Regions from separate parts of the Homo sapiens genome. Here region 2 is linked to region 1. Evidence: fine-mapped expression QTL. A gene starts in region 1. The other region holds a variant in brackets. All regions are shown on one strand. Distances are between the middles of the regions.

Region 1 (5,313 bases):
GAGTTTTTTTGTTTTTTGTTTTCTAACCTTATCTTAAAATCATTAGCTTACAGCTTCAATGAGTTAGTAAGAATCACATAGTACAGGCTGGAAGCGGTAGCTCATGTCTGTAATTTCAGCAATTTGGGAGGCCAAGGTGGGTGGATCACCTGTAGTCAGGAGTTAGAGACCAGCCTGGCAGACATGGTGAAACCCCATCTCTACTAACAATACAAAAATTAGGGCCGGGTGCGGTGGCTCACCCCTGTAATCCCAGCACTTTGGGAGGCTGAGGCAGGTTGATCATCTGAAGTCAGGAGTTCGAGACCAGCCTAGCCGACATGGCGAAACCCCATCTCTACTAAGAATACAAAAATTAGGGCTGGGCGCAGTGGTTCAAGCCTGTAATCCCAGCATTTTGGGAGGCTGAGGCGGGTGGATCACCTGAAGTCAGGAGTTCAAGACCAGTCTGGCCAGCATGGTGAAACCCCATCTCTACTAAAAATGCAAAAAATTCGCCAGGCATGGTGGAGAATGCCTGTAATCTCAGCTACTCAGGAGGCTGAGGCAGGAGAACCTCTTGAACCTGGGAGGCAGAAGTTGCAGTGAGCCGAGACCGTGCCATTGCACTCCAGCCTGGGTAACAAGAAAGAAACTCCGACTCAAAAAAAAAAAAAAAATAGCCAGGCATGCATGAGAATCCCTTGAACCTGGGAGGTGGAAGTTGCAGTGAGCCGAGACCACGCCATTGCATCCAGCCTGGGAGACAAAGTGAGACTCTGTCTCAAAAACAACAACAACAACGACAACAAATCACATAGTATAATCATTATTACAGCAGTAGAAGTAGCTACCACTTACTCATCCCCTACGACTCTCTTCCTCTCCTAATCTGTTCCAGCCACACTGACATCTCTTCTGTTCCTAGAATCTCATCAGGCTTCCACCTCAAGGCCTTTGCACTGGTTGTTCCTGCTCCTTGGAAAGGTTCCCTGCCCATCTGCCCTACTTCTTCCCTCACTGCATTCAGCCTCTGCTTGAATGCCACTTGCTCAGGGAACCCCTCCTGGATCACCCACCTAAAACAGCTCACACCTCATTTGCACCCAGATACTTCCTTCAGCCTGCTTTGTTTTCTCCAGTTTGCTTATCCCTCTCAGACAGTGAAAGATTAGATAACACATATCTGCTCCCCACTGTCAACACAACAAAAGGTGGGAACTTTGCTTTGCGTCCTGCTGTGCCCCTAGCTCCTGGACCAGTGCCCAGCACAAAGTAGGTCCTTGGTAGATGTTAAAGGAATGTGTTGAGCCCTCCATTTCGGCCAGCAGCTATTCCAGGCATTGCACCTACATTAAATTGCTCTGTTTAGTTAGATGCATCCTAAGACGGGGAGACAATTTTATCTTTAGTATTTTATTTTACTTAAAAAAAAAAAAAACTTGGCCAGGTGCAGTGGCTCATGCCTGTAATCCCAGCACTTTGGAAGGACAAGGCAGGTGGATCACCTGAGGTCAGGAGTTCGAGACCACCCTGACCAACATGGTGAAACCCCATCTCTACTAAAAATACAAAAATTAGCCGGGTGTGCTGGCGTGCCCCTGTAATCCCAGTTACTCAGGAGGCTGAGGCAGGAGAATTGCATGAACCCAGGAGGCGGAGATTGCAGTGGCCGAGATTGCACCACTGCACTCTAGCCTGGGTGACAGAGTGAGACTTCGTCTCAATAAATAAATAAATAAATAATAAAAAGAAAGAAAAAACTTATTATAAGCCTTTTCAAACCCACAGAAAAGGAGACAGAATGGCATAATATGCCCTTATATACTGATTACCTTTATATAATTGATACAACCATTTGGCTATTTTGCCTTTATTTTCTACTCAAGTATTTATTTATTTATTATTTTTTTGAGACAGGGTCTCGCTCTGTTGCCCAGGTTGGAGTGCAGTGGTGCAATCATAGCTCACTGCAGCTTCCAGTTCCCAGGTTCAAGCGGTCCTCCCACCTTAGCCTCCCAACTACCTAGGACTACAAGTACGGGCCACTGCACCCAGCTAATTTTATTTTATTTTTAATTTCTTTTGGAAAGATGAGGGCTCTTTATGTTTCCCAAGCTGATCTTGAACTCCTGGCCCCAAGTGATCCTCCTGCCTTGGCTTCCCAAAGCATTGGTGTTACAGGCATGAGCCACCTCATCTGACCTCTTCTAAAATATTATAAAATAAATACAGACATCAAAATGAAAACAAAAGAAAAAGAAAAAACAAAACAAAAATCCCCAAAACAACAACAACAAAAAATGCAGACATCAATAACATTCACCACTAAATACTCTAGTAAGCATCTGCAAAAACAAACAAACAAACAAAAACCAGAATCCCACCTAAGCATACAGCCATTGTCGTAACAGTGATATCTACTTTTTTGGCTGAAGTGTCTTTTTTTTTTTTTTTTTTTTTTTCTGTGAGAAGGAGTCTTGTTCTGTTGCCAGGCTGGAGTGCAGTGGCACGATCTCGGCTCACTGCAACCCAACCTCCGCCTCCCGGGTTCAAGCGATTCTCCTGCCTCAGCCTCCTAAGTAACACACACACGCCACTACGCCCGGCTAATTTTTGTATTTTTAGTAGAGACGGGGTTTCACCATTAAGTGTTTTAATGTAGGTGCAATGCCTGGAATAGCTGCTGGCCAAAATGGAGGGCTCAACACATTCCTTTAACATTTACCAAGGACCTACTTCGTGCTGGGCACTGGTCCAGGAGCTGGGGGCACAGCGGGAAGCAAAGCAAGGGTTAAGTGTTTTAAGTGTTTAAGAGATGCATATTTCAGGATGCATCTCTAGATAAGGACATTTTCCAAAATACCAGTATCCCTCCTGACAAAACTAACAAAAATCCTGTTAGCCAAATAATCAGCCACATTCATATTTACCGTCAAAGTTTTTATCCTCATTTTACAGCAGTGGAGAGCGATTGCCCCGGGTCCCACGTTAGGAAGAGAGAGAACTGGGATTTGCACCCAGGCAATCTGGGGACAGAGCTGTGATCACAACTCCATGAGTCAGGGCCGAGCCAGCCCCTTCACCACCAGCCGGCCGCGCCCCGGGAAGGGAAGTTTGTGGCGGAGGAGGTTCGTACGGGAGGAGGGGGAGGCGCCCACGCATCTGGGGCTGACTCGCTCTTTCGCAAAACGTCTGGGAGGAGTCCCTGGGGCCACAAAACTGCCTCCTTCCTGAGGCCAGAAGGAGAGAAGACGTGCAGGGACCCCGCGCACAGGAGCTGCCCTCGCGACATGGGTCACCCGCCGCTGCTGCCGCTGCTGCTGCTGCTCCACACCTGCGTCCCAGGTAGGGGCTGGGTCCCGAACGCCTGCGCCTGGAACAGGGTCTAATTGAGGGGGTTGGGGGTTGTCAGAGGATGAGTTGGAGGAATGCGGTTCAGTCCTCAGCATCCTCCCTAATCAAATAATAGTAATTCTCGTGCTTTGTGCAACGCCACGCGGCGCAGTACCTGGCACTCAGTAGCTAAGGAAATATTAGTGGAGCAAAGGCATTTAGCTTTACATAATTTAGTGAGTGCTTTTTTTTTTTTTTTTTTTTTTTTGACAGAGTCTCACTCTGTCGCCCAGGCTGGAGTGCAGTGGCGCGATCTCGGCTCACTGCAACCTCTGCCGCCCGGGTTCAAGCGATTCTCCTGCCTCAGCCTCCTGGGTAGCTGGGATTACAGGCGCCTGCCATCGCGCCCGGCTAATTTCTGTATTTTTAGTGGAGACCGGGTTTCACTCTGTTAGCCAGGATGGTCTCAATCTCCTGACCTCAGATGATCCACCTGCCTCGGCCTCCCAAACTGCTGGGATTACAGGCGTGAGCCACCGCGCCCGGCCCAAGTGTTCTTTTTTTAAATGGAGTTCTTCGAAGCCTCTTCCTTGCAATTTCAAACTAGGCGATGGGACTTTATTAATTTCGTTTCGCAGAGGAAACTAGGGCACAGAGAGGTTAGATAACTGGCCTAAAATCACACAGCCAGTGCTTGAATACGCAGGATCTGACCCTGCAGCGCCCCCCAGCGCTCTCCACGCTGCTGGGTCTCCCCCTCTGAGAAACGGGGGGACAGGACCCCCTTTTACAAAAGGCCCAAAGGGAGGCTGACTGAGCGGCGCAGAGCCAGTGCTGGAGACCCGGGACTGTCCCTCAGGACCTTTCCCTCTCACTGAGGCGACTCTCACTTACTTCCCCGGAAAATGTGGGGGGCTCTGGGTCGAGGAATTCGAGAAGGAACTGAGTCAGGGCGGGTGGCCACAGGGTGTTGGGGCCGCGATGAATAACCCGGAAAGCGCTCGAGACCGCGGGAGGCCGGGAATGAGTAACAGCTCCGGGATACTCCGAACGCGCAGCTGGAAAGGGATGTCCGGGAAGGCCCGGAGGTCGGGGACCGGGCCTAGGGACTGGGCTGCAATCTCGGGGCGGAGCCTGGGGCGGGGAGAGAGTGTCGGGGAGGAGCCAGAGGGCGGGGCTGGAACCTCAAGGAAGAGCTACGGGAGAGGTTACAGACCGAGGAAGAGCTAGGAGCGGGGCTAGAACCTCGAGGCGGAGCCAGAGGGCGGGGTTATAACCTCGAGGCGTAACCAGAGGGCGGAGTTATAACCTCGGGAGGAGCTAGAAGGTGGGACTAGACTCTTGAGGGGCAGGATTATAACCTCGGGGAGGAGCTAGAGGGCGGGGCTGGAACCTCAAGGAGGGGCTAGGGGCGGGGTTATAAGCTTGGGGAGGAGCTACGGGGCTGGGCTAGGACCTCAAGGGGCCAAGGGGCGGGGGTTACGACCTCGGGGAGGAGCTACAGGGTGGGGCTGAAACCTCAAGAAGGGACTGGGGCGGAGTTATGACCTCAGGGGAAAACTAGGGGCGGGGAGAGCTAAAGGGCGAAGTTAGAATCTCAAGGAGGAGCTAGAGGGAGGGACTAAAGCCTCGAGGAGGAGCTAGGGGCGGGGTTATGGCATCGGGGAGGAGCTAGGGGGCGGGAAGATAAGGTCAGGAAGAGCTAAAGGGCGGGGCTAGAACCTCGACGATGAGTCTGGAGCGGGGCCAAAACCTAGTTGGAGAGCTGGAGGGCGGAGACAGAACTTCGCGGGAAACTAGAGTATCTAACAATAGAAACTCCGGAGGGCTGATGGGGCCGGGCCTAGAATTTGGGAATAAATTAGTGGGCCGGGAGAGGCTCTGGAGCCGGGTAGAACCAGGGGGAGTGAGTGGAGGGATAGTTCCATTAGGGCACTGGGAGTGACGGTATAACATAAAGATCGACGCGGGTGGGGCAAGGCTAGAACGTCCCCAGCA
Region 2 (5,375 bases), 22 kb before region 1:
ATTAAAGGCATGAACCACTGCGCCCGGCTGGCCTTCTTAACAATTTTTAAGTGCACAATTCAGTAATGTTAACTATATTCACATTGTTGAGTGTAACAGCTCTCTAGAACTCATTTTGCACAACTGAAACTCTGTACCCATTGAACAACTCCCATTCCCCCGTCCCCCAACCTCTGGCAACCACCATTCTATCTTCTGTTTCAATGATTTTGACTACTCTAGATAACTCAGTGAAATCATACAGTATTTGTCTTTTTATGACTGGTTAAGCCACTAAGTTCTGGCCAGTTTGTTATTCAGCAGTAACTTAAACAACTATGGCAGCAGATTTCAAACTCACACCCTCCACTGCACCCTAGCCTCTGCCCTGCATGTCCAGGAAAAGGCTACAATGGCTGAAGCTAGGCAGCAAAGTGGGAGAGTGAGGATAGGTCTTGCTGTACCCCAAGCCCTATTTCTGTCCCCATGGGCACTCACCTGTGATGCCTGCCATCTGAAGGCAGTAGTGATTATCCTCTGGGCATGGAAGGGGGCCACAGCTGTGGAGGTCTCAGCAGGTGAAGCAGTCGGTGGTCTCAGCTTTGGTGTGGGTCACAGTTGCATGAGGACCTGGGGACAGAGGAAGATGAACTGGATGGAAGACAACCAGTGTGCATGCACGTGCATGGAGCTGAGTTTCCAGGCACATCAGTATGTGCCCATGAGTGCGCAAAAGTGCCTTTTGTGCGCACTTCTGCAAGAATGCCATTTGTGTGTGCAAGTTTGCAGGCCTGTTAAGTCTGTGTGCACATCTGGCTGTGCCTTCCTGTGTTGAATTGTCTGTGTGTTTCTGAAACTGTCTGCAGGAGGTCAGGGATGTGTGTTTTTGTAGCTCTGCAGGACACTGTGTGAGTAGGTGTTTACCTGCGTGTCTGTATAAACAAAGGCGTGTGTTTATGTGTATGTGTATAAGGCTGGTTTTATGGGTATGTGTGTGTTTCTGTGGCTGGGTGTGTCTGTGTTTCCATCAAGGTGTGGGGGTGCTTGTATATATATATATGTTGGTATACAGATGTGAACGTTCATGGATGTTGGTAATGTATTTCAGCTTGCCTGTGTATATTTTGTGCTTTTGTATGTTTGTGGGTGTTTATGCCTGTCTCTTTCCCATGTCATATATATGAAAGCCTGTGTGTCCATGCATAGATATGTTCTGTGTCTGTGTCCACAGGGATCATGTGTGCAAAAATTCCGCGTCCCACATTTCTGTTGTTAGTCTTCCTATTTTGCCCTTTTTCTTTCCATCTTGTAAATTTCGAGCTCCCAAGTCAGCCTTTTTTCTTCATTGTGATAATTAATTAAATCCGCTGCTCAGGGCTGGTCACAGTGACTCACACCTGTAATCCCAGCACTTTGGGGGGCCTAGGCAGGTGGATCACCTGAGGTCAGGAGTTCGAGACCAGCCTGGCCAACATGGCAAAACCCCATCTCTACTAAAAATACAAAAATTCACCAGGCTTGGTGGTGGGTACCTGCAATCCCAGCTACCTGGGAAGCTGAGGCAGGGAAAATCGCTTGAACCCAGGAGGTGGAGGTTGCAGTGAGCCAAGATCGCACCATTGCACTCCAGCCTGGCCGACAGAGAGAGACTCTGTCTCACAAAAAAAAAAAAAAAAAAAAAAAAATCCATTGCTTAGTTTAAAAAAGGAAAACTCCTGGCAGCTGGAGATTTGAAGAAGCTAAGGTGAGAATGTTTCGGCTTTGCCTGCAAATTCAGTAACTACACTCTCCTATCAGCCTTTTTTTTTTTCTGAGACAGAGTCTCTCTCTGTCACCCAGGCTGGAGTGCGGTGGCGCAATCTCGGCTCACTGCAAGCTCCACCTCCCGGGTTCACACCGTTCTCCTGCCTCAGCCTCCTGAGTAGCTGGGACTACAGGTGCCAGCCACCACGCCCAGCTAATTTTTTGTATTTTTAGTAGAGACAGGCTTTTGTCGTATTAGCCAGGATGGTCTCGATCTCCTGACCTCGTGATCCGCCCATCTCGGCCTCCCAAAGTGCTGGGATTACAATCATGAGCCACCGCGCCCGGCCAGTAAACACACTCTCTTTTGCATCACAGAATGGTTCTTCAGCTTTGGCAACGTAGGGAGGACCTCACCTCTAAAAAAAAAATTGAAAAATCAGCTGGGTGTAGCAGTGTGTGCCTGTGGTGCTAGCTGCTCAGGAGGCTGAGGTGGGAAGATTGCATGAGCTTGGAAAGTCAAGGCTGCATTGAACCATGATCGTGCCACTGCACTTCAGCCTGGGTAATAGACGGCGACTCTGTCTCTAAACACACATACACACACACACACACACACACACACACACACACACACACACACACACAGAGAGAGAGAATGGTCCTTTCTGGTGTAGTTTCTGACAAAGTTTCCTCTACATCTCTGGAGCTGAGGGAATGCAGCTGTATCCAGAGAAAATTGCCTTTCTCACCTCTAAAACGTCTATCCCTCTGTTCAGTTGGTTGAATTGCTTAATAAACTGTGGCCCCAGTAAATACTATTTCAATTAGCATATCACTTTTGCGGAAGACAAAACTTCTTGTGACTGTTCTTTGTTAAGCCAAAAGAAGACTATTGGCAAATCTGTCTTCTTTCACAAG[C/T]AAGGAAGTGAAGAAAAGAGGGAAAACACCATCAGATTTATCTTTTCTTTTCTTCCTTTTTTTTTTTTTGAGAAGGGGTCTTGCCCTATCACCCAGGCTGGAGTATAGTGACACAATCTCAGCTCACTGCGACCTCCGCCTCCCGGGCTCAAGCCATCCTCCCACCTCAGCCTTCCAAGTAGGTGGGACCACAGGTGCATGCCACCATGCCTGGCTTTGTTTTGTTGTTGTTGTTGTTTTGTTGAGATGGTGTTTTGCCATGCTGCCCAGGCTCAGATCCATTTAAAGAGAACGTGGATCTTTAACCTCACTCACATAATATGTTCAGAGTATGTTCATGTTTAGAAATTTGTGTGCCTCTGCATATTTGTTTTGGGTGCTAGGATGTAAATGTGGATGTTTGTGGATATGTGCCAATAGATGTTCTGCTTCTGAGTGTGTCAGGTGGTGTGTGTGTGTGTATGGGTAACTGTACTCATTGGGAGCATTATCGTAGGAAATGTGGACACCCTGGGAACACATAGGTTTGAAAAGAGCATAGGGGATCCAGGGAGGTAAGAAAGGTTGGGTTTTTAGGAAGGCAGGGGTCAAAGCACCTGGATGTGTAGGAGTAAGGCAGTTGCATTCAGGCTTAGCGGTGAGATGAAATCCAGAGTCTTCTGGACCCAGGGTGGCATTCTCATGTAAGTTGCAGACCTCTGGTGTAGCACAGCCCTTCAGAATTTGGGGACCCCCTGTGGAAATGAGATGAGATTGCAACAAGAGGCTCAGAGTCCAAGCCTTCCAACTTGATGTCTATCTTTCGCTATCTGAAAGTTGCCATCTTAGTAGTTCTATATGATTCAGTTTCAAATCTACCTGGTCAGTTTTTACAACCTCTTGTTGCCTGCTCACATTTGTGATTCTAAGTTTATTCCTTCAGACATATCACGTGCCGGTACGCTATGTTCTACAGCTGATAATTACAATAGCTGAGCTCCTCACAGGTCTGTATCTGTGATTTGTTATTTCTGCTATCACTCATGGTGGCTTGTTTCCTTGTGCGTTTCATGAACTATGATTGTGAGCTCATATTTGGTTGATATTCATCTGTGGGAATCCTGGGAGCTTTTCCCTGGGAAGGAATTGCTTTTGATTCTACTGAGTGCCAGGAGGTGCTACTGACCAGGGATCATTTTGGCTTCTGTCCGAGGTCCCTTGCTTATGTGGGAATCTAAATTCCAGAAGCATGCTGCCAGCCCAAGACCTGTTTACCTAAAGCAGGTTATTATCAGCATTTGCTCCCAGGCCACCATGCCTTCCATGTTTTCTCACTGCTCCCATTATGATTTCTGTTCACATTTTTGTTTTGCTTAGGGACACGTGGACATTTTCTTAACTTTCTGCAACCCCAAAAAGTGTGGAAAAATATTTCTGTACAGGATCTTGTTTATCTGTAAACAGTGGCATACCAAGCAGGGGAAGGGAGTGGGAGCAGTCCAGCCTGGGAACAGGCTACAAGGGGCTTAGTGTCTATAGAGAATTTTTTTTTTTTGAGACAGAGTCTCACTCTGTCACCCAGGCTGGAGTGCAGTGGCACAATCTCGGCTCACTCCTACCTGAGCCTCCCAAGTAGCTGAGATTACAGGTGTGTGCCACCATACTCAGGTAATTTTTGTATTTTTAACAGAGATGGGGTTTCACCATGTTGGCCAGGCTGGTCTCGAACTCCTGTGCTCAAGTGATCCACCCGCCTCAGTTTCCCAAAGTGCTGGGATCACAGGCATGAACCACCGTGCCCAGCCTATAGAGAATTTTTTTAAATCATAAAACCAACTAAAAATCAGTTTGCTTTTTATTATCACCAGGTAGTACCAGCAATTCTAAGCAATGTCAGTGATAAACTGCTCCTCCCAACCATGATGGGCCACTTCCTCTATTTCACTGTCTCAGTCCTCCACCTTCCCAGTGTGCCACTGTTTGGAGCAGAAGACCTTTTAGAGGATTGAGTCCACCATACTGCCAAAAGCAGAAGCCCAGGCTACTGCTCTCGATCCTTTGATTGGCTTCATAATTAGTCTATCCTCTGGCTACTGTGGTTATATTATAAATCTTTTGCTGAAAAGGCCTCTCCTCCAACTGTTTGCAAATCATACTGGTGATTTAAAAATACCTTTGCAAATCTATGACACATCAACAGGTGGGGTCCATGCCTCTTTCATCTTGAAACCAGATGGAACTTTTGTGACCATTTTGATCAATAAAGCAGAATAGAAGTTACATTATGTGACTTCCAAGGCTGAGACATAAAGACCAAGCAGCTGTAACTTTGTTTGCTGAATGAAATCGTTAGCCACCATGTAAAGAGCCTTGAGGTAGCCATGATGGGAGGAAGCTCAATCTAACCGATGTGGAGAGGCCACATAGAAAGGCCTGTGCTTACATATATGCAAGAGATGCTCAGAAAGCCCCTGGTTGTTCCTGCCCCAGCAGTTCCAGCTCTTAACACCCTCTGACTACAACATACGAGAGACTCAGAACTCTCCAGAGGAGCTCTTCCTGAATTCCCAAACCAAAGAAACTGGAAGAGATCATTAAATGATTGTCATTTTTAGCCACCCACCTTGTGAGTGATTTGGGGTTTTTTTGTTTTTGTTTTTGTTTTCGAGATGGGAACTTGCTATGTAGCCCAGGTTGGTCTTGAACTCCTGGGCTCAAGTAATCCTCCCACCTTAGCCCCCCAAAGTACTGGG

Evidence for each region. PIP is the estimated chance that this variant, and not a neighbour inherited with it, causes the effect. A credible set is the group of variants that fine-mapping cannot tell apart.
Region 2: its variant is the best candidate, but not a certain one, in a credible set for the expression of PLAUR in whole blood (TOPMed, PIP 0.81).

What each region holds. Positions count from the first base shown.
Region 1 is chr19:43,668,080-43,673,392 of GRCh38, reverse strand. PLAUR (plasminogen activator, urokinase receptor) reads left to right here and starts at 3,224. Exons shown (of 7, transcript NM_002659.4): 1 at 3,224-3,327. The coding sequence starts at 3,273. LOC124904724 (a long non-coding RNA gene) reads right to left here and starts at 4,629. Exons shown (of 3, transcript XR_007067264.1): 1 at 4,210-4,629; 2 at 2,913-3,367. RefSeq lists an enhancer at 3,156-3,455 and silencers at 4,376-4,455, 4,496-4,725.
Region 2 is chr19:43,690,284-43,695,658 of GRCh38, reverse strand. It overlaps the pseudogene LOC105372412. Among named protein-coding and RNA genes, the nearest start is that of PLAUR, 23 kb to the right of the region's middle. The variant C/T (reference allele first, on the strand shown) is at 2,644.